4 linked regions of the Homo sapiens genome follow. The protein of the gene in region 2 interacts with the protein of the main gene of each other region in a pairwise test. Each region holds a gene or a part of one and is shown on either strand. Other genes may lie near its edges. The genes, in order: SMCO4, SLC16A2, PNLIPRP1 and CNIH3.

Region 1 (4,614 bases), on a different chromosome or scaffold from region 2:
CTCCATCCTCACAGCATCTGCCCTGGGAAGGGGACTCATCAGCCGCACAGCAGCCCCTGTGAGGAGCAGGGATGGCCGCAGACGCCTTCCTCCACCCTCCAGCCCCTGAATGAGAAAGTCCTTGGGACAGTGGCCTGCAGTCTTTCTCAGACCAGCAAGCACTGAAGTTCATAACAGAACCAAATAAAGGGGAGGAAAACAGAAACCTCAGAGGAACTTGATGCTAGCAGCCTCTGAATTTGGCAAGTATTTTAGCAAATCTCTTACCAGGGCCATTGGCCCTTGAGTGAGCATGAGGAGACACGGAGTCTCTCTGAGACCAGCTCACAGAGCGGGGCCGCAGAGCTCTGTCAGCCTGCTGAGTCCAGGCTCTCCAGGCATCAGCCAGAGAAGTCCTTCCTTTCAATAGCTGCTTCGTCTTCCAGAGAGACTCACTCCAAGAGGCCCCAAATCTCCACTAACAGCCTCTGCCATCTGTGAGCGAGTCGCGCAGCCACGGGGATTAGGAAAAGCACTTCTCTCCCCACAGATCTCCATAATCAGCAATGACAGGAAAACAGACATCCTCAGAACAGTAACCATGAATCTGACTTCCAAAAAGAGGCTGCTCCATCAGGAACCAGGACCGCCTGAGCAGTGCTGTTAGAATAAAATGAGGCAACCATTCCAGCCAATTTGCATTGAAAACTCAGCTGGAATGCCAACAATTTGCATCCTTTCAGCTAAGAACAAAACCAAGCCTGACCTTTACTTCCAGGATCACTCTGTATTGCTGTTTGCACAAACATACCGAGTTGAAGTAGGAAAAACTAACTGGTGTAAAAAGCACCTGTCGTCACAGTCTAATTAGAACTCTCACTTTCTAAAGCAAGCCAATTAATATACCCTTTCTGTCCCTCTCCATCTTAAAATTATCGGTCAAAAAGCATAATTTTACTCAGAAATGATGAGCAGAGGGAGTGCTGGGGAAGGTGGAGAGAGCCACAGGAGAAAGGGAAGGGGAGGGAAGAGGGGCAGACCCGTGGGCAGGGGGAGACCCACAGACAGCACCTCCTTGCAAAACATGATAAGCATCCAGTTTAAGGCTATTATCTCCTTTATTCAAAAAATAAATATTTCACTTTGATTCAACATATTTCAAATCACATTAAGCACAGAGAAGAAATACAGTCCCTTTGGAGATTGTGAACACGTGTTGGAAAGAAGCATGATCCAAACAATGGGAATGAGGTGAGTGTGGATTCCAGCTGTTTCCTGACCCAGAGGTTCCATCCCTCTTCAGGTGGAGCTACTTATCGATTTTTAGGAGAGAAAAAGAAGCACACACACACACACACACACACACACACACACACACACATGCGCGCGCGCTTTGAAGTCTGAAAGGCACATGAAGTGGACCATAAGGTGTATGGCACATTCACTGATAAAACATCCCCTATTCCCTCCCAAGAAAGCGGAGATACTTTAATCAAGTCAAAGACCAGAGAAGACAGGGTGCTCCTGCTTACAGCTCAGCAACATGAACATCTCTGAATATGAAAGCCATTTTTTGTTTGCGTCCCCCTCCCGCGCCTCCTCTCCCTGCCGATGGGGTCCGCAGCCGGCTGCGGGGCTCACTCGGTGATGGTGGGGCGCGTGGCCACGTACACAAACACCACGATCAAGAGCACGACCACGGCCAGCGTGGGCAGCACCACTGTAGTGATCTGCTGCCGGGCCTCCTGCATGGCTTGCTTCCGCTCCTTCTTGTCCTTGGAGGTCTCCTTCTTGGGCTTCCCTTTGAGCTGCCGCATCTTTCCTAGAGGATGCTAGGAGGGTGTGTCCAGAGGGATTCCAGGAAGGGCCACACTCCTCTTGCCAAGGCTGGAACCTCCTGTAGAGAGAACAACTGTGATAGTAGAGAATAAACCAAATAGAAGAAAAAATAAATCACTTAAAGGCAAATACACAACTAGGAAAAATATCTGCAACTTACATGACAAAGGGCTAAGAACAGAGGCCACACCAGGCTCTAAGTTCTCTTGGGATCAGCGCTCTAAGTAGTGGGCACTGGGTCACCGGTGTGCTGTGAGAGGGGCCTCCGCTCCAGCGCCAGCTGGACAAAGCCCTGGGTACCAGACAAATAATACTGTGTTCTGTACATGCCATGAGGTGAAAGGATTGGGAAGCACCAACTACGCCGCCTCCACTCAGAGGAGCGGCTCTCCCTTTCGTGGCTCTAGCTACTTGCTTTCCTGCTCTAAGTTCCATGATCTCCCCAGCCCATCTCCAGCATGGAACTGCAGGCAGCCTGCAGTCTCCAGGCACGTAGCCCCCTTCCTGCCCAAGCCAGGCCAGCCTCATTAAGGCTGCAGAGAGCCCACAGGCATCAACTTCTCTCATCTCTTTGTTGGTTCCTTGGCCCATTCATCCAAACCTTCCCAAGCACCCACCGTGTGCCAAGCATTACTCAAGGAGCTGAGGATAGAGATGAAGGACTCAGTTGTGTCCCCACAGAGGTCACCGTCTAGGGGGCATGATGGAGACCCGGGTCACAGTAATAATGAAGGGAGACGGCTGAGCCCACAGTCCTGCCACCCACTCAACCTGGGATTCTCCTGTTAATTCTGTAGCTCACGGAGGTGCCTAACAGGTGAAGTAGAACTTTCAGGGGCCAGAAGAATGAATACAAATGTTTGGATAACTACAGAGGAACATCTCTATAAAAGTCGGCTTCTTAGCTTTAAGCAGATGAAGCAGACTTCAGCTGATTTAAATCGAGTTTACTTAAAGGCCTTTGGCATCTCACTGATTCCCAGAAAAGCCAAAGAACCAGGCTCAGAAAATGGGCAGGACATTATGCTGTGCTGCCATAACTGGAGCCCAACTCACACTCCCAGTGTGAGGATGCCAGAGCCTGCATCACCACCGTCAGCACTGGACATGGGCACTGGAGCAGGAGGTGCCGAGCCACCATGACCACCCCCAAAAACTAGATGTGGCTGCTGGCACAGTCTCCAGATGAACTCGCCACCCCCCAGCATTCTGCATCACCAGCTTCCATGCATGTGTGACTAGCCAAGCCCCGGCCCATATGCCCACAGCCTAGCCTTCCAATTTGTACAGCAGGAAGAGTACTTTTCAAACACAGTGACGGAGTGGGGTTGGGTATCAGGGCTATATCAAAGGCAGATGTCCATTACAATATTCTCGGAGAGTAGCATGGAGTGAGGGGTTCTTGGAAGCAGAAGAGCACTGAATACCAATGTTCCTCTAGCAGAGGGACCTATGCTGTATACTGTCTGCCCTGTTTTGTCCCAGGGTAGTGGGTGGCCTGTCATCATCTTGAGGAGGAAGATGACATTTACACCTAAGTGACCGAGGTGGTAGAATGTGAACTCAGAGTTGGGAAAGGTCTTACTGACACCATCCTGTTTTTATGAGGGATACTTAATCTCTTACCATTCCTCTCACTCCATTTAGACCCCAAAACCTTTTTTGTATCATTCAAAATCAGGCAGAGTTTCCTAAGGTATGAGATGACAAATATTATTGTGCTAGGATGGCATAATGCCAATCAAAAGCAAACATTAAGGTTCAGCAAATATTAAGGGAAGCGCCATTTGGGCAAATGTATAATTTCCTTCATGAAATAAGGAACAGAGAGAAAAAAAAAAACACCTACTATTACTTTCTTAAGGCCTGAAAGGTATAGGAACCCCTGGCTTTACCAATTCTCCTTTTCAAGTCTTCCAAAGGACTTCCAGGCAGACTTGCCTTCAAATCCAGGACCAATCACTTACAGGCTAAATGGCTTTGAGCAAGTCACTTAACTCCACTAGGCCTCCATGCCATCATCTGAACAATGAGAACAGCTTGTCTTAAAGGATGACTGTGAGAATCTGGAAAACAAATGCATCTGTACCCAGAGCTCTGCCCGCCCGCAGGGACGCGGTACAGGTGGGCTGAGACATCTCCACCCATACCCGTGGGCGGCCCAGGGACGGGTGCACTGAGCTCCTCTAAGCCTGACTGCAGCCTTGAGTGATGCCCACCTTCGCGGGACCGTGGTGAGGATGGAGTAGGAAGCTGTATAACTCAGGGCTTGGCACAGAGCGGGCGGCGAATTCGTGCTAGCTGACATACCAACACCTGGAACACACCCCAACGGCCCTGTGAGTCAGACAGACAGGCTTTATTATCCCCATCACGGAAGGGAGGAAACCAAGGAGCAAAGGGGAAAAATGTCTTGCCAACAGTCACCCAGTTTGTAAATACCCCATGGCTTCTAACAGAGCAATGGACAGCATTCCTGTTCAAAGCTGCAAATGGCAGCCTATTCTCTCCGACACGGCCTCAAAAAAATTGTTTAAAAAGAAACAAGCCATTAGCAGCACTCTGATTCGTGGCCATTTCCTTGTGGAGCTAATGGCCTGTCGGAGCCCGCTGCTGTCTCTCCCAAATTCCTCACAGGACTGGCAGGTGGCACCCCAGGCCTGGGGCTAGCCATGCCCTGGCTGGCTGGCTAGCAGTGCTGGGCCTGACTTCCCTCCTGCACTTCATGCTGCTGTCTGCATCCACCCACACAAGTGTAGTTGACATTCAAAGGCCCCAGCCTCCACAATGACCAGT
Region 2 (4,904 bases):
TGAGGCAGGTGGATCATTTGAGGCCGGGAGTTTGAGACCAGCCTGGCCATCGTGGTGAAACCCCATCTCTACTAGAAATACAAAAAATTAGGCATGGTGGCGTGCGCCTGTAATCCCAGCTACCCGGGAGGCTGAGGCACAAGAGTTGCTTGAACCCGGGAGGCAGAGGTGGCAGTGAACCAAGATTGCGCCTCTGCACTTCAGCCTGGAGACAGAATGAAACTCTGTCTCAAGAAAAAAAAAAAAGAAAAAGAAAAGAAAAAAGGCTTTCTTGGTAAGGGCTATCTCATTGTGGTTTTAATATGCGTTTCTCAACTTATTAGTGATGTTGAGCATCTTTTTATATGCTTAATTACTATTCATATCATAAATGTATGTGCACATGTGTAATTGTGTAATCTCTGTTCAATTCTTTTGCCCATATTTTAAGTTAGATTGTTTGCTTTATTATTGAGTTATGAGAGTCAACTCACTCTTGTATGGTGGATACCGGTCTATTGTCAGATTTTGTGTGCTGCAAAATTTTTCTGTCTATGGCTTGCCTTTTCATTTTCATAACTATTTTTGAAAAGCAGAAGTTTTCAAGTTTGATCAAGTCTAATATATCAAATCTTTTCTTTTATGGATCATACGATTTGTGAATATCTGCAAAATCTTTGCCTAACCAAAGGCCAGGAAGATTTGTCTCCTATATGTTCTTCTAGAAGTTTTATAGTTTTAAGTTTTACATTAAGTCTATGATCCATTTTGCATTGATTTTTAAACATGATGTGATTATTGATATTTACAAAGTTCTCTTCTTATACATATAATTTTATCTGATTTTTTTTTTTTCTTTAGATGGAGTCTCACTCTGTCACCCAGCCTGGAGCGCAGTGGTGAGATCTCGGCTCACTGCAAGCTCCGCCTCTTGGGTTCAAGCGATTCTCCTGCCTCAGCCTCGCTAGTAGCTGGAACTACAGGCGCCCGCCCCCACACCCAGCTAATTTTTTGTATTTTGAGTAGAGACGGGGTTTCACTGTGTTAGCCAGGATGGTCTCTATCTCCTGACCTCGTGATCTGCCTGCCCTGGCCTCCCAAAGTGCTGGGATTACAGGCGTGAGCCACCACGCCTGGCCCTGATCATCAGCGGATCACAAGGTCAGGAGATCGAGACCATCCTGGCTAACACAGTGAAACCCCGTCTCTACTAAAAACACACAAAAAAATTAGCCGGGCGTGGTGGCAGGCACCTGTAGTCCCAGCTACTCAGGAGGCTGAGGCAGGAGAATGGTGTGAACCCAGGAGGCGGAGCTTGCAGTGAGGCAAGATCGGGCCATTGCATTCCAGCCTGGGTGACAAAGCAAGACTGTGTCTCAAAAAAAAAAAAAAACAAAAAAAAAACGAAAGAAAGAAAAAGAAAAAGAAATGTTTGAGGCAGGCACAAGCAGAAATTTTAATCTCCATTTCACAGATGAGAAAACTGAGGATTAGAGAAATGCTGTGTGACTTCTCAAGATCTCACAGCTGATAGGAGATGAAATGGCAAGGTAAGAGGTGAAATTGTGATAAAAAGTTAAGGTCTCCTGCTGTCCCAGGCTAGTACTTTTGAAGCCAGGCAGAGAGGGCTCAGGGTAAGGCTCCAACAAAGTAAAGATTCCCAATGGGGAGCTGAGCAACCTATTTGGCACTGAGGTAAGAGACACAGCCAGTTGACTAGCCCCAGACTGAGCTCCTTTGGCCCATTGGGGCTCCACAATTGGAGAGAGCCAGAAGTTGGCCCAGTGCCTAGCTCATGTGTCACTCTTTGATGATGATGATGAAGAGCTGGAAGTGTTCAAAGGAGAGTTCTGAAATTAATTTCAGAGTTAGAAATTAAAGCTAAGAGGAAAAGTTAAGGAAACGAAGATTATTTGGCGGAGAAAAGAGAGGCTCAAGATGAAACTTGATAACAGCCTTCAGACGAAATAAAAAAAAAAGCTTGAACTTTCCTTCTGAGGGCTGAGCAAAGGGAAACAGTCTGGAAGAATCTAAATAAAAGGGCAAGTTCCTTCCTCCTTAGTGAGGATTGTTATAGACACTTAAGAGCCTTTAGAAACAGGATAATATCTGCTTGAGTTTGAAGTCAGGAATTTGCCAAACATGGGCTCTGATGACGGATTTCAGCATGAGGGTTACATGACTCTTGCACAGTGTCCTTAGAAATCTTTAGGTGGCCTATGAACTTGCCTTGTATCCTAGTACAATTCCAGGGGGCTTTTGTCTGTGGCCTTCTCTACTCCTTAGTCTTATCGTCTTCACAGGGTTCTTCTAATGCTGGAGACAAGCCTGACCTTAGCTCCTGAAAGCTTAACCCCAATGTTTTTTGCCCCTGAAGCCAGTGGCTTAGAACCTAAGGCTATAGATCTGGCTTAGCATCCCTGGAAAGGCCTGAAATATTGACTAGTCCAAATCTTACCGCAGTGATAGAATCCCCTGTTTTATATCTAGTCTCTTCTTGCAAAACTCTCTGAACATCAGGGACTAGCAAGCTGGCAATGCAGACCAATGCAATGCCCCCTGTGAAAGGCCAGAGAAGAAGAGCTGAGATACCAGCAGTACCACCAGGCACTACACTAAGCTAAAGTGTCTTTGCACTTGTTTTCTCTGCAGCATGGGTCGGAGCCCTCGCGATGGGTATGATCTTCTTCTGTTCTCCCATTGTGAGTATATTCACTGACCGTTTGGGCTGCCGAATCACAGCAACCGCGGGGGCTGCCGTTGCTTTCATTGGCCTCCATACCAGCTCCTTCACCAGGTAAGGCTAAGAGTTGGTGGTTATTTCCCCAAGGCTGAGGGTTGGTTTTTTTCTGGGCTTTAGCTAGGGTTACTTTTCTCACTGCAGAATCCCCTGTGGCCATGGCCCTGTAGGGCCCTCAAAGATCCTGCACCCTGGATTCAGAATCCAGTGAATTCATCTGGGTAGGGTCCCCAGGACACATTGGTAGGGAATATCCCCAGAGAGGACCTAAGAGTTCCAAAGTGGTAGGAGTACTCTAAGCCTGGTAGTTCGTAGAGCTGGGCCCAAGTCCGGTTTTGGCCACTGAATGGCAATGGAACAATTGATGAGTACCATTGTTCTCTCTGTGCCTCAATTTCTATATCTGTAACATGAGGGGATTTGACCATATGGTCTTTTTACATCTCTTTCAACTCTGCTATTTGATTCCCCTTCAGTGTGCCACACATCTCACAACCTCACTTTCCATCCCAAGATTGAGCTTCTCGAGTGAGCCCATGTGAACACCTAGCACAGGATTCCCAAAGGAATCTTATGCTGAAAAAAGAGGTCAACTGAGCCCAAGGATGTTTAGCATTTCTGACTCTTTTCCAGATAGCTCAGGCTGCTGACATATGGATGATTTGGGACAGATAATGATTTACATCATGGGCATCAGAAGGATGATTAGCAATATCCCTTACTGAGATACAAACCCAGAACCCAGCTACCCAGCTAGGCCTGGGCTAAACTGAAACCCTAGTCCCACTGGTTCCACTGGCAGAACTTGGCAGTATCAGGTGAGAAGCAGGCTCTAGGTTCATTTTCTGCTTTCTTTTCTGCCAGCCCTGCAGAAGAATGTGTGTAGGGTAAGGGAGAATAAATACCCTAACCACAGCCTGAGGAATATGGAATTCCTAAAGAACTCTGTTGACTTTCTGCCAAAGACACTTTGGAAGTTATGGTACCTCCTACTTCCAATCTGCTTGGGCCGATGTAGGGGAATGCCAGCCTGGAAACACAGAAATGAGAAATGGCCGTGGTGACATGTCTGGGATGAGGTCAGAGCTAATTTGTCAGAGACTTGCTTTCTGAGCTTAGTTACCCAGAAAAGCGTCATGGCTCTCTAGGCCTAAGGTTCCACTCACAGTAGAGAATGATAATTGTGTTTTGCCTTAACTGGGCCCTGTGAGGTAAGCCAGCTTTCTTTATGACTTGAGCATTTCCAGCTGCCCAGCCTACCCTACAGCAGAGCTTGGATTTGGCCTGCAGTCATTTCTTGGCTTCGTCCTGTCCAACTGGGACAGAGAAGGGAAAAACCGTGTCCTGCCTGGAAACTACTCAGCACTCCCAGGGCAGCAGCTCCAAACCTTTTCAGAACCCCTCTGGTGGTCAGCCTCATTCACCCCCAGCAAGCTGGTGCCTGGCTCCTTGTGGGGAGGAGCTAGGCTTCAAAAGCAGCTCCAGTCTCAGCACTATACAGCAAAGGTCTGTTTTTTAAGACCGAGCAGAGCAAAGTGTAAACGGATTAGCAACATATGGATTCCATTTCCCTTCCAATCCACATGGGCTCAATTACAGGAGGGGAAGGAGCTCAGATGTGGTGTTTTCTTCTGGCACGCTACTGTAGGCACATTGGAGTAGGCGTTCTGTTCTCTAGCCCCTAACCTTCTTCTCTACCCGCTTTGTTCTTTCTGTAAGAGGATCTTCAGAGCCAAGAAACTTTCTGGATGGCTTCACATCCAGTGGAAAAATGGTTCTTCTCATGGCTAGAGCTCCAAATCATCCTTCCTGTTGTCTCAATCAGGGCCCTGAGTTCCTCCGAATGACATGGAATGGGGCAGGATGCAGGCAGGGCTGGTGGGGCTTTGGAAAACCCAAACAATGGGCATCCATCCCTGGGGCCCAGCTAGAAGTAGATCCACCACATGGATCTAAACCAAATCCTATGTTTTTCCCCCACTGGCCCCTTCCCTGAAGGTCTAACACAAGGCCCCTTGGATAAGGCCCCCAAGCCAGGCCGATCCCATAGGGTACCTAGAATCTAATGGGCACAGGCCCAAAGGAACCTGACAGAAGAGGAACCGTTGGCTTAGCTATGTGTTCCAAGCAGAGACAACCCTTTCAAAACCAAATCCTTGCTCACGTCCAGTGAATACCAGCAGAT
Region 3 (4,904 bases), on a different chromosome or scaffold from region 2:
TTAAGTTTCTGAAAATACGGTCCTACTTTGGAACCATCCCATTTGGAGAGAGAGGCAGAGAAGCTGTTACAGGCCCCCAACCACCTGTTCAGGTCTCCTTATTTGTTTTCCCAGGAACCCGGGACTTTGTGGCTTGCAATCACCTAAGAAGCTACAAGTATTACTTGGAAAGCATCCTCAATCCCGATGGGTTTGCTGCATATCCCTGCACTTCCTACAAGTCCTTTGAGTCTGTAAGCTATTGTCCTGCCTCGAGCAACAAGCATCACCCCTCTGAGGGACTGCTGTCCTGCTGCGTTTGGGATTTGCAATGCCTTCTCACTACACGTTTTGCATTGACCCTCAGAGTTCATGGTCCTGTGGAGTGGAAGAGAAAAAAAAGTAAACAACTTTTGGCAGGAGATGGCTAAAATTTTAGATGACATGAGTTATGTGGCAGAGGAAAACTGGGAAATCAGAGAGAAAGAGCAGTCAATTCAATGATATAGAGGCTTCCTGCAGGAGGCAACCTCTGAATCTAGCTTAAAAATGATACAGTTTAGAAAACACAGGAATGCACATTTCTGGCAAGGGCAGAGCGAGAGTAGAAGAATGTATAGAGAATAATTCACACCAGAGAGAAAGCAAGGTGGATGCTGGAGTCCTATATGCCAGGCTGGCAACAAGGGGAGAGATGAAGAATGACAGGTTAGAGCCTGCCTATTCTGGCTCACGAAAGCCAGCATGAGTATCCCTTCCCAACTCCAAATTCAGAGACATCATGTTGGTAGCCTGAAACTGGCCACAGTCAGAGTATTTACACCACTGAAAATGGTAAGCACTGCAATCCAGGGTTTTTGTCCCAGAGCTTTTGCTGCTTATCATTCACCAGCTCCACTCAACAGAAGGTATAATTGATCTAACCTGGGTCCTGGGCATCAGTATTTTTTAAAGCTCCTCAAATAATTCTAATGTGTTGTGCCTAAAAGTTGGGAACCCTGATCCAGATGAAGGTAATTTAGAGATCATCTGCTCCAACCCCTTTGTTGTCACAAAGGAGAACGCTTAGGCTGTAGGAAAATTGAGTGTCTGCCCTCTCAGATGTATCGATCATACAAACACAAATTCTCCTTACAGTCCCATCTATCTCTTCTCATTAGGACAAGTGCTTCCCGTGTCCAGATCAAGGATGCCCACAGATGGGTCACTATGCTGATAAATTTGCTGGCAGGACAAGTGAAGAGCAGCAGAAATTCTTCTTGAACACAGGAGAGGCTAGCAATTTCGCTCGTAAGTTGCACTTTGACTACCTGCCCATGTAAAGAAAGTATATAGTTTCTGTTACAAATGAGGGGCTTGCTTTCAACCTGAAATATTTGTGGGTACATTTTAATTATCTTAGAAATGGACACATTTACCGAAACTATTGCAGTTACAAGTAAACTGAGGATTTAGACAGAGTGTGCATTTCTTCCGTTCTATTTCTGCGGCATGAAATGAGAGCAAGCAACTAGTATAATTAATGGGATGAGGCCAGTTTGCACATCCTTGTGACCAGCTACCCTGAATTTTTACCACTCCACAGTTCATTGTTTCTTTCCTTTTTAAGGCCGCATCAGACACACCTGTTCTCTTCATTCAGCAAAGACGTAATTGGTACCAGCTCTTTGCTGGGCTATGTCCCTTAAGAAGCCCAACTCCATTCTCTGCTTTCCCCTCTGTCTGTGCATCCCTGATGCCCAGGGGCTGCCTCGCTGGTGGAGTGCAGGCAGGAATCAGGGGGAAGGATGATTTCTCTCCAAAACCTGCTGAATGGACTAAGACACAGGGTAGAGACTGGGCATGTTTGGGCCACTTTGTACCAACCTGCCCCATGACACTTCCATAGGAGGTGACCCAGTAAAGACAGAGGTTACATATTCATATAAATGTATAACACATCTTACATAGTTTTTAAAGTCAGATTTATTGAGGTATAATTTATATTTGGCAAAATGCACGCTGTTTAGCATACACTTGTATGAGTTTGGACAAATGAATAGTTGTGTAAACACCTCCAAATCAAGATACAGAACACTTCTATCACCATATATATCACTCTGTAATTTTTTTTTTTTTTTTTGAGACGGAGTCTCGCTGTGTCGCCCAGGCTGGAGTGCAGAGGCGCAATCTTGGCTCACTACAACCTCCCCCTCCCGGGTTCACGCCATTCTCCTGCCTCAGCCTCCCGAGTAGCTGGGACTACAGGCGCCCGCCACCATGCCAGGCTAATTTTTTTTTTACATTTTTAGTAGAGACGGGGTTTCACCATGTTAGCCAGGATGGTCTCGATCTCCTGACCTTGTGATCCGCCTGCCTCGGCCTCCCAAAGTGCCGGGATTACAGGCGTGAGCCACCGCACCCGGCCCACTCTGTGTATTTTTTTTGTAAGAAGACATTGATTAATCAATCCTTCCACTGATGTTGTGATGCATGAAATACTTGCCAATATTTCAACAACAAATTAAACACTCAAAAACCAGGTATTCATTCCTCAATCAACATTTATTTATGGGCCACAGACTATGCTAGACACTGAGGATGCAGGGACGAACAAGAGACTCCTCTCATGAAATTAATAATCCAGCCAAAGACAGAAACTGGGCAAGCAACTACAAGCGTGTTGGGCTTGGTGGCTGTTGCCATGACATTATGGGACAGAGAACCTGGCCCTGACCAGAAGGAGGGTCAGGGTCAAGGTCTCTGAAGACACGAAAGATGAATAGGAGTTAGGCAAGAATCATGTCTGTGTATATTAATGTACATCTGTGCACATGTGTGGGTGTATGAATGCATGTGTGAGTGTGTTTGTGTATGTACCTTTGTGTGTATGCATGTGTTTATATACGTATGTATATGAGTCTGTATGTTTATGTATATGTATGTGCATGTGTATGTATATTTGTATGTGGGTGTCTATGTATGTGCGTGGTTAAATGTGTGTAGGTTTGTGTGTGTGTGCACATACACATGCATGTTTGTGTAGATGTATGTGTGTGTGCACATGCACATGTTGTGTATATGTATTTGTGTATGTGCACGCACATGCATGTTTGTGTATATGTATTGTGTGTGCACATGCATATGTTTGTGTATATGTATTTGTGTGTGTGCACGCACATGCATATGTTTGTGTATATGTATTTGTATTTGTGTGCGTGTGCATGCAGGCCCTGGGACAGCATTTCAGGTAGAAGCCTAAGTGACAGCTGCTCGTGCACCTGCTCTGTGCTAGAGACTGCCCAGGGCCCTGGGGAGCAGAGAGGAAACACAGTCCCCGCCCTCGAGGTGCTTGCCAGGCTGCACTCCCGAGCTACCTTCCCAAATGTGGAGACAAGCCCCTATTCCCTCTCTCTTCACCTTACCTTACTGTACTGCCATTCTGGGGCAGAGCTGGCTAACAGAACTTTCTGCAATGAGGGGCATATTCTGTGTAGCCATTAGCCTCATGTGGCAACTTAACATTTGCAACACAGCGAATGAGTTTGAGAAACTAAATTTTTAATTGTATTTAATTTGGATTTAAATGTAAGCAGCCACATGTGGCTGGTGACCTCCTCCCTGGGCAATGCAGTTCTAGAGGGGGATACTGCTAAATACATACTTCTCCATAAGGCCTTGTTTGATTTGTAGATTAACAAATAGAATTTCTTATACTTTGGCTGGGTGTGGTGGCTCACGCCTGTATTCCCATCACTTTGGGAGGCGGACACGGGCGGATCACTTGAGGTCAGGAGTTGGAGACCAGCTTGACCAACATGGCGAAACTCTGTCTCTACTAAAAATACAAAAATTAGCCAGGCGTGATGGTGTGTGCCTGTAGTCCCAGCTACTAGGGAGGTTGAGGCAGAAGAATTACTTGAACCTGGGAGGCAGAGGTGGCAGTGAGCCAAGATTGCACCACTACACTCCAGCCTGGGTGACAGAGTGAGACCCCATCTCAAAAAATAATAATAATAATTTTTTAGAAAAGAATTTCTTATGCTTTGTTGCCTCAGAGTAAGAGAAGGAGACAAGTCTGGGATGTAGGCTACTTATTTTGTGTGTGAATAAATTGAACTCTTCCATCTCCTGTGCAGGCTGGAGATATGGGGTTTCCATCACACTGTCTGGAAGAACAGCCACTGGTCAGATCAAAGTTGCTTTGTTTGGAAATAAGGGAAACACTCACCAGTACAGTATCTTCAGGTAATTTCCTATTTTAACACTACGTCTCATTTGATGATATACACAGCCTTCAAACCACACACTTAATTTGAACACTTATCATCTCTTTATATGTCACTGGTTTTTAATTATAGTCATGCAACATGTAACAACATTTTAGTTGATGGACCACATACACAACAGTTGCTTTATAAGCTTGTAATACCATATTTTTACTGTACTTTTTCTATGTTTGGGTGTTTAGATACACAAATACTTACCATTGTGTTCCAGTTGTCTACAGAACTCAATACAGTAACATGTAGTACAGGTTTGTAACCTAGGAGCAATAGGCTGTACCATACAGCCTAGGTATGTAGTAGGCTGTGCCATCTACGTTTGTGTGAGTACATGCTATGATGTCCACACAATGATTAAATTACCTAAGGACACATTTCTCAGAACATATCTCCATTGTTAAGCAACGCAGGACTATATAACTTTATGTACTGATGTTAATTGCAGACTTCTGCTAATAATTTTTCTTTTCTGTTATAAACCTAGGCATTTCGTCCTTTCTCTCTCTTTTTTTTTTTTTTTTTTTTTTTTGAGAAAGAGTCTTTGCTCTGTCACCCAGGCTGGAGTGCAGTGGCACGATCTTGGCTCATTGCAACCTCCGCCTCCCGGGTTCAAGAAATTCTCGTGCCTCAGCCTCCCAAGTAGCTGAGATTACAGGCATG
Region 4 (4,904 bases), on a different chromosome or scaffold from region 2:
GCCATGTCCCTATTGTATCTCCTTATAGGACCTCAGAGCTGTGATAACCAATCCTATCTACCCCCAGCCAAGGCATCACCCTACCCCCTCCCATTCAAAGAGAAAGCCCACTTTCTCAGAGCTGGGTGCGCCAGCCCCGGGAGGCAGTGGCTGTGAGTTCTGCTATGCACATCTCTACATTTTCTAATCATCAGTTTCAGCCACTTAAGCTGAGGCAATTAACATGTTTAGAGACAGCCACCGTGGGCCTGAATCATCCATTATTTCTCCATCTCCATCTCCAATTCCAATGACAAATCTCTGACTGATTACAGTTTGGATTTCAGGTCCCACTCTTAATCACCACTGCTTCTTCTCTCTTTGGGGCTTGATTTATTGTGGAGGCTGCAACCTTCCAAGCAGGGAGGATTCATCACTGTCTCCACGTAGAGGAAAACTGCTTAATGCAGGCCAGCTAGTCACGGAGGTCTCCAGCCTTTTGGAGGTTGGGAAAAAAGCTGAAGAATTTATTCTGCCATTTCAGGTGGCTTCTCTAGATGACCTCTTATGCCTAGAACACTGAACAGGATCCTTACAAGTAGAAGAGGCTCCTCCAATTAATCCAGAGACTTTTAGGAGTGACAGTGACCTTTTGATACACACACTGATCCTTGCCTACTTCACCAGCTGCTTCTTGTCACAATGATGTGGAAGAGGTAAGGAACCTCTTCCTTCTAGACCAAATGGAAATCAGCCAGGCCATTTGCATGAGGCCTGCACCATAGCCATTATGGCTGCCTCCACTCACACCCAGCACTCAGCCTTCTGGAAGGTGGTAAGGTCTCATTTTCCAGCTCTCAGGGGTTGGGGCTGCTGATGGGCTGTGGGCAGAAGTGATGTGGAGAGAAGGCCAGACCACTTAACGGCTGATACAAAATTCTCCAGAGTCTCTTTTCCTTTTCCTCTGACAAAGCAAAAAGCATTTAGGATGGTGGGTACTCCATCATCCTGAAGCCACAAGTAAGGAAAGAGGCCCCCAGGCAACTCATGATGGACTAGAGTGTGAGCAGTAAAGAAACTTGTGTTGTTTTAAGCTGCCAAGAGTTGAGTGTTGTTGTTGTTGTTGTTGTTTTGCCATAGCATGATTTAACCTATCTCATATGATACCATCAGCAAGCCCCAGACTGAGTAATCAATGGGAAAAGCAAAGTTGTGCTCTTCACTGTTTATCCTCCCCCAACCATCCACTCAGCCCTTCCTTAACAAGCCATCGAGGCCGGCAGGACACAGCTCCCTGTCACCGGACATGCTCGGGCAGGGGCTGAATAACCACCAGGCAGGCATAATGCTCATTCATTTGTGTGGGCAGTCAGACCAGGCGTTCCCTCCCAACTCTGAGAGTGTCTGTTATATAAGGACCACCCCTAAAGCTTCTAAGCAAAATACAGAGATGCTGATGCAAGCGCTCACCACAGCCCCATGACCCTGAGTCATCCCTTAGCTTTGGAAAACACTTTTTTTTTTTTAATAAGAGAAGCTGTTGAATGGTGCCAATCTCATTCTTTCAACAAATGGAGAAACTATTTCATGCAAGCCACAGCCTATTGAATTGCCATGTATTATTACCCTGCTTTCTAGAGTCATAAATCCTAAATCTCAATATAAGTATTGTGGGATTACTGAAAGACTGCAATTCATTCCAACCAGGGGGATCATGGAAGGTTTGTGATCAAAGGGAAGTTGGAAAGGGCGAGTAAAACCTAATCACTTATGGGAACCAGAGGTCGGCATCCTAGAAGTGGAACAGTGAAAGCAAAAGCATAGAGAGATGGAAGTCACTGGTCTGGGGTGGCTCCTTAACAAGGCCACCTCAAAGGGCCCCTATTAAAGGACATTAATGATAACCGGTAAGGACTGTGTAAACGCTAACTGTATTCCACCTGTCCTGACTTCCTACCCAGATGCTAATAGTCAATTTTCATTTGCTGGCAAACATTTCCACCTGGATATCCCACAACCACTTTGTGCTGAAATTCACATTCCTATCAGTACCTGCAAACTTTATCTCCTAAATTTCCAACTTCTACTAACCATACCATCTCTGACTCCTTCTTCTCATCAGTCTCCATGTAAGTCTGTTTCCAAATCTTGCTTCTTCACAGCCACTTGCATTTGTTCCTTCCTTTTTATTTATCCTGCCCCTGGACCTCCTCTCCAGGCTGGTGCAAGAACCTTCTAGCAGGTTTCCATCCCTGCACACATGTGCCCTCCACCCAACAGAGCAGTATATGCCATGCTCAGCTCAGCTGTAAGCCATTGTCCACAATCTTGTTTTTCCAGGAATTTTACTTGTCTGCATTCTAAATATTTTATTTCTAGTTATGTATCCTCTCATTCATTCATGTATCCATTTGTTTGCTGTTTTATCCCATCAATGACCTGCAGCTGATTGGTACCCTTTATAGATTATGAAAACAATAGAATCGTGTGCCAAGTCCTGTCTTATTTTTACTACTGTGGTGGAGAGGGGCATCAGGGGTTGTGGGAGAGATTCTTCTTACCCCTAAAGGAAAAGAAGTAGGAAGGGGATGCTTGGAGTTGAAGCAAGGGAATAATGCTCCTGGTGGAGAAAAGGGATTCCTTAAGACCAGGGGAAGGGAGAAGATGAGGGAGATGAAGAGGCAGCAAGCGCCCCTGTTGTTGGAGATCCGTCTGCTCCTGGCTCTCATCATGCATTCCAAGGGCATAGGTTTTCTGAGGGGCTGGTGTCAGCATGCCTGGGACCAAACACTTTAAAAGTCACAGCTATGGAAGCCACAGGGAAGCTCCTGGCACTGAGTTTATCTTGAAGACAGTAGAAGCTGTGAGACTCAGAGTCTCTACCCATCTCTGAATGCCCCTGTCGACTCAGACAACAAGCTTTACAGCTGTAATCCCATAAGTCTCAATATATTAGCCCAGTGTCTCAAAGCATTATATAAATTCCTACAGTTACATAATACTCAACTGTGTGCTATTTAGAAAAGCAGCTACCCATGCTGAGTCTTATTTTACCCATCTGTAAAATGCCATACCTACCAGCCAGGGACACAGGATGTACTATGAATGACAGTGCTCTCAAAAGTGAAGAAGCCTCCAGCAAAAGAAGACACCACTATTGTTATTGTGTTGTGATCATTATTATCATTATTATTTTTTCTGAGATAGAGTCTTGCTCTGTCACCCAAGCTGGAGTGCAGTAGCACGATCTTGGCTCACTGCAACCTCCACCTCCCAGGTTCAAGTGATTCTCCTGCCTCAGCCTCCCGAGTAGCTGGTACTGCAGGCATGTGCCACCATGCCCGGCTAATTTTTGTATTTTTAGTAGAGATGGGGGTTTCACTATATTGACCAGGCTGATCTTGAACTCCTGACCTCGTGATCCACCTGCTTTGGCCTCCCAAAGTGCTGGGATTGCAGGCATGAGCCACCATGCCTGGCCGGTCATTATTATTTTTAATAATCATATACTAGATGATGACCATTCTCAGGTAGATAACTTGTTGCTCTTACCGTGAAAGTCAATGAAATGACCCAGAACCAGAGTTGGTTTCCTGATTTTTCAATTCAGTCTCCTGACTCCCTCTGATTGAACCAAGCTCCAGCTTCCTCAAGTGGGAAGAGAAACCAAGGGCTGTTTCAACAGCCTGCCTCTCAAATCATAAAAAACCTCAATCCTTGCCTGTTTTCAACAGCAATAATCCAGTTCTGTGTGTCTGCCCTAAGGTTTATTTGCCCCAGGAGCCAAAGAGTGTGGAGAAAAAGATACTATATCTTTTATTTGATTCCTCAGCCCATACTAAACTGGCCCTAAAACAGAGGATCCCTCTGGGATGCCCCGGACGAAGTCAGTATTCCCAGCATGGAGATCATTCTCCATTTGTTCCCAAATGAATAATCATGCACGTGAGCATCTCCAAGCAATGTCAGGAAACTACATTCTGGGCCCCTTTGCTCTCAGGAGGCCACATGCTCTTTAATCACTCTGGATGAAGGTCGTCTTTGGAAAGCCTGCACCAGCCTGGGCATCCAGGAGGGCTGCCCAGCCCCATAGGCCTTGCTGTGTCAGGGACTAGCAGCCAACCTCAAATGGCATGATACAGTAGGAACACTCCGCCAGCTGGGACTTGGGTTGGGTCGACTTGAGTGGTCCCTATTTGTTGGTGCTGGCATATTAAATGTTTTGACCTCCTGGAATTTGCATCAAAGTTTATTAAATAGTTTTAAGCCATAAGACAAAGGCTCTGCTACATAAGCAACTTAACACAGAATAACCTAGTCTAGAATTATAATCTTATTTAAAATTTTTTAAAATTTTTTGTTAAGAGATGGGGTCTATGTTTCCCAGGCTAGTCTTCAACTCCTGGGCTTAAGTGATCCTCCTACCTCAGCCTCCCAAATTGTGGGGATTAGCGGCGTGAACCATCATGTCTGGTCCTAGAATAATTTAAAAAGTCACCATAAAATTAATATGACACCTACTGATTTTATGTACACCAGGAACTGTGGCTGTGACTCAAAACCCTTTGCTGTTAGGAGCTCTCCTAAATGCCTGGACCAAGTATTGCTTTGATCTTGGCCTTCCATGGCCAGAATTGGACCCTCATGGCTGACCACTGGGGCCTGGGCCACTATTCAAGGGAAACCAGTAGCAGATTATTTTCCCCATAGGCCTGCACCAGGAACACGAAGGAAAATAAGTTAGAGAAAGCAAGAGACAGTTGTCTGCCTGAGTGAGCCAGGACCTGAAGACAGAAGAATTTTCCTCCTGGCCTGGGGAGGCCCAGTGGTCAGTGACGGCATGAAGGGCAGAGGAGTGACGGGCTGCTTCCAGCCCCAGAGGGGCTTTCTCTCCAGGCCTCCCACTTTTCCATCCCATGGGGCCT

What was found.
Region 1: the proteins of SLC16A2 (region 2) and SMCO4 interact in a two-hybrid assay, tested with the Homo sapiens proteins (one large-scale study listed by BioGRID).
Region 3: the proteins of SLC16A2 (region 2) and PNLIPRP1 interact in a two-hybrid assay, tested with the Homo sapiens proteins (one large-scale study listed by BioGRID).
Region 4: the proteins of SLC16A2 (region 2) and CNIH3 interact in a two-hybrid assay, tested with the Homo sapiens proteins (one large-scale study listed by BioGRID).

Annotation. Positions count from the first base shown.
Region 1 is NC_000011.10:93,477,394-93,482,007, forward strand, and holds the end of SMCO4 (single-pass membrane and coiled-coil domain-containing protein 4), read right to left. Parts: intron 1,892-4,614; coding exon of another isoform or gene 1,797-1,891; coding exon 1,617-1,796; coding exon of another isoform or gene 1,477-1,616; 3' UTR 1,079-1,476; downstream 1-1,078.
Region 2 is NC_000023.11:74,518,359-74,523,262, forward strand, and holds part of SLC16A2 (monocarboxylate transporter 8), read left to right. Parts: intron 1-2,631; coding exon 2,632-2,776; intron 2,777-4,904. UniProt on the Homo sapiens protein: Specific thyroid hormone transmembrane transporter, that mediates both uptake and efflux of thyroid hormones across the cell membrane independently of pH or a Na(+) gradient.
Region 3 is NC_000010.11:116,599,933-116,604,836, forward strand, and holds part of PNLIPRP1 (inactive pancreatic lipase-related protein 1 precursor), read left to right. Parts: intron 1-114; coding exon 115-233; intron 234-1,139; coding exon 1,140-1,269; intron 1,270-4,097; coding exon 4,098-4,206; intron 4,207-4,904. UniProt on the Homo sapiens protein: May function as inhibitor of dietary triglyceride digestion. Lacks detectable lipase activity towards triglycerides, diglycerides, phosphatidylcholine, galactolipids or cholesterol esters (in vitro).
Region 4 is NC_000001.11:224,723,485-224,728,388, reverse strand, and holds part of CNIH3 (protein cornichon homolog 3), read right to left. Parts: intron 2,466-4,904; exon of another isoform or gene 524-2,465; intron 1-523. UniProt on the Homo sapiens protein: Regulates the trafficking and gating properties of AMPA-selective glutamate receptors (AMPARs).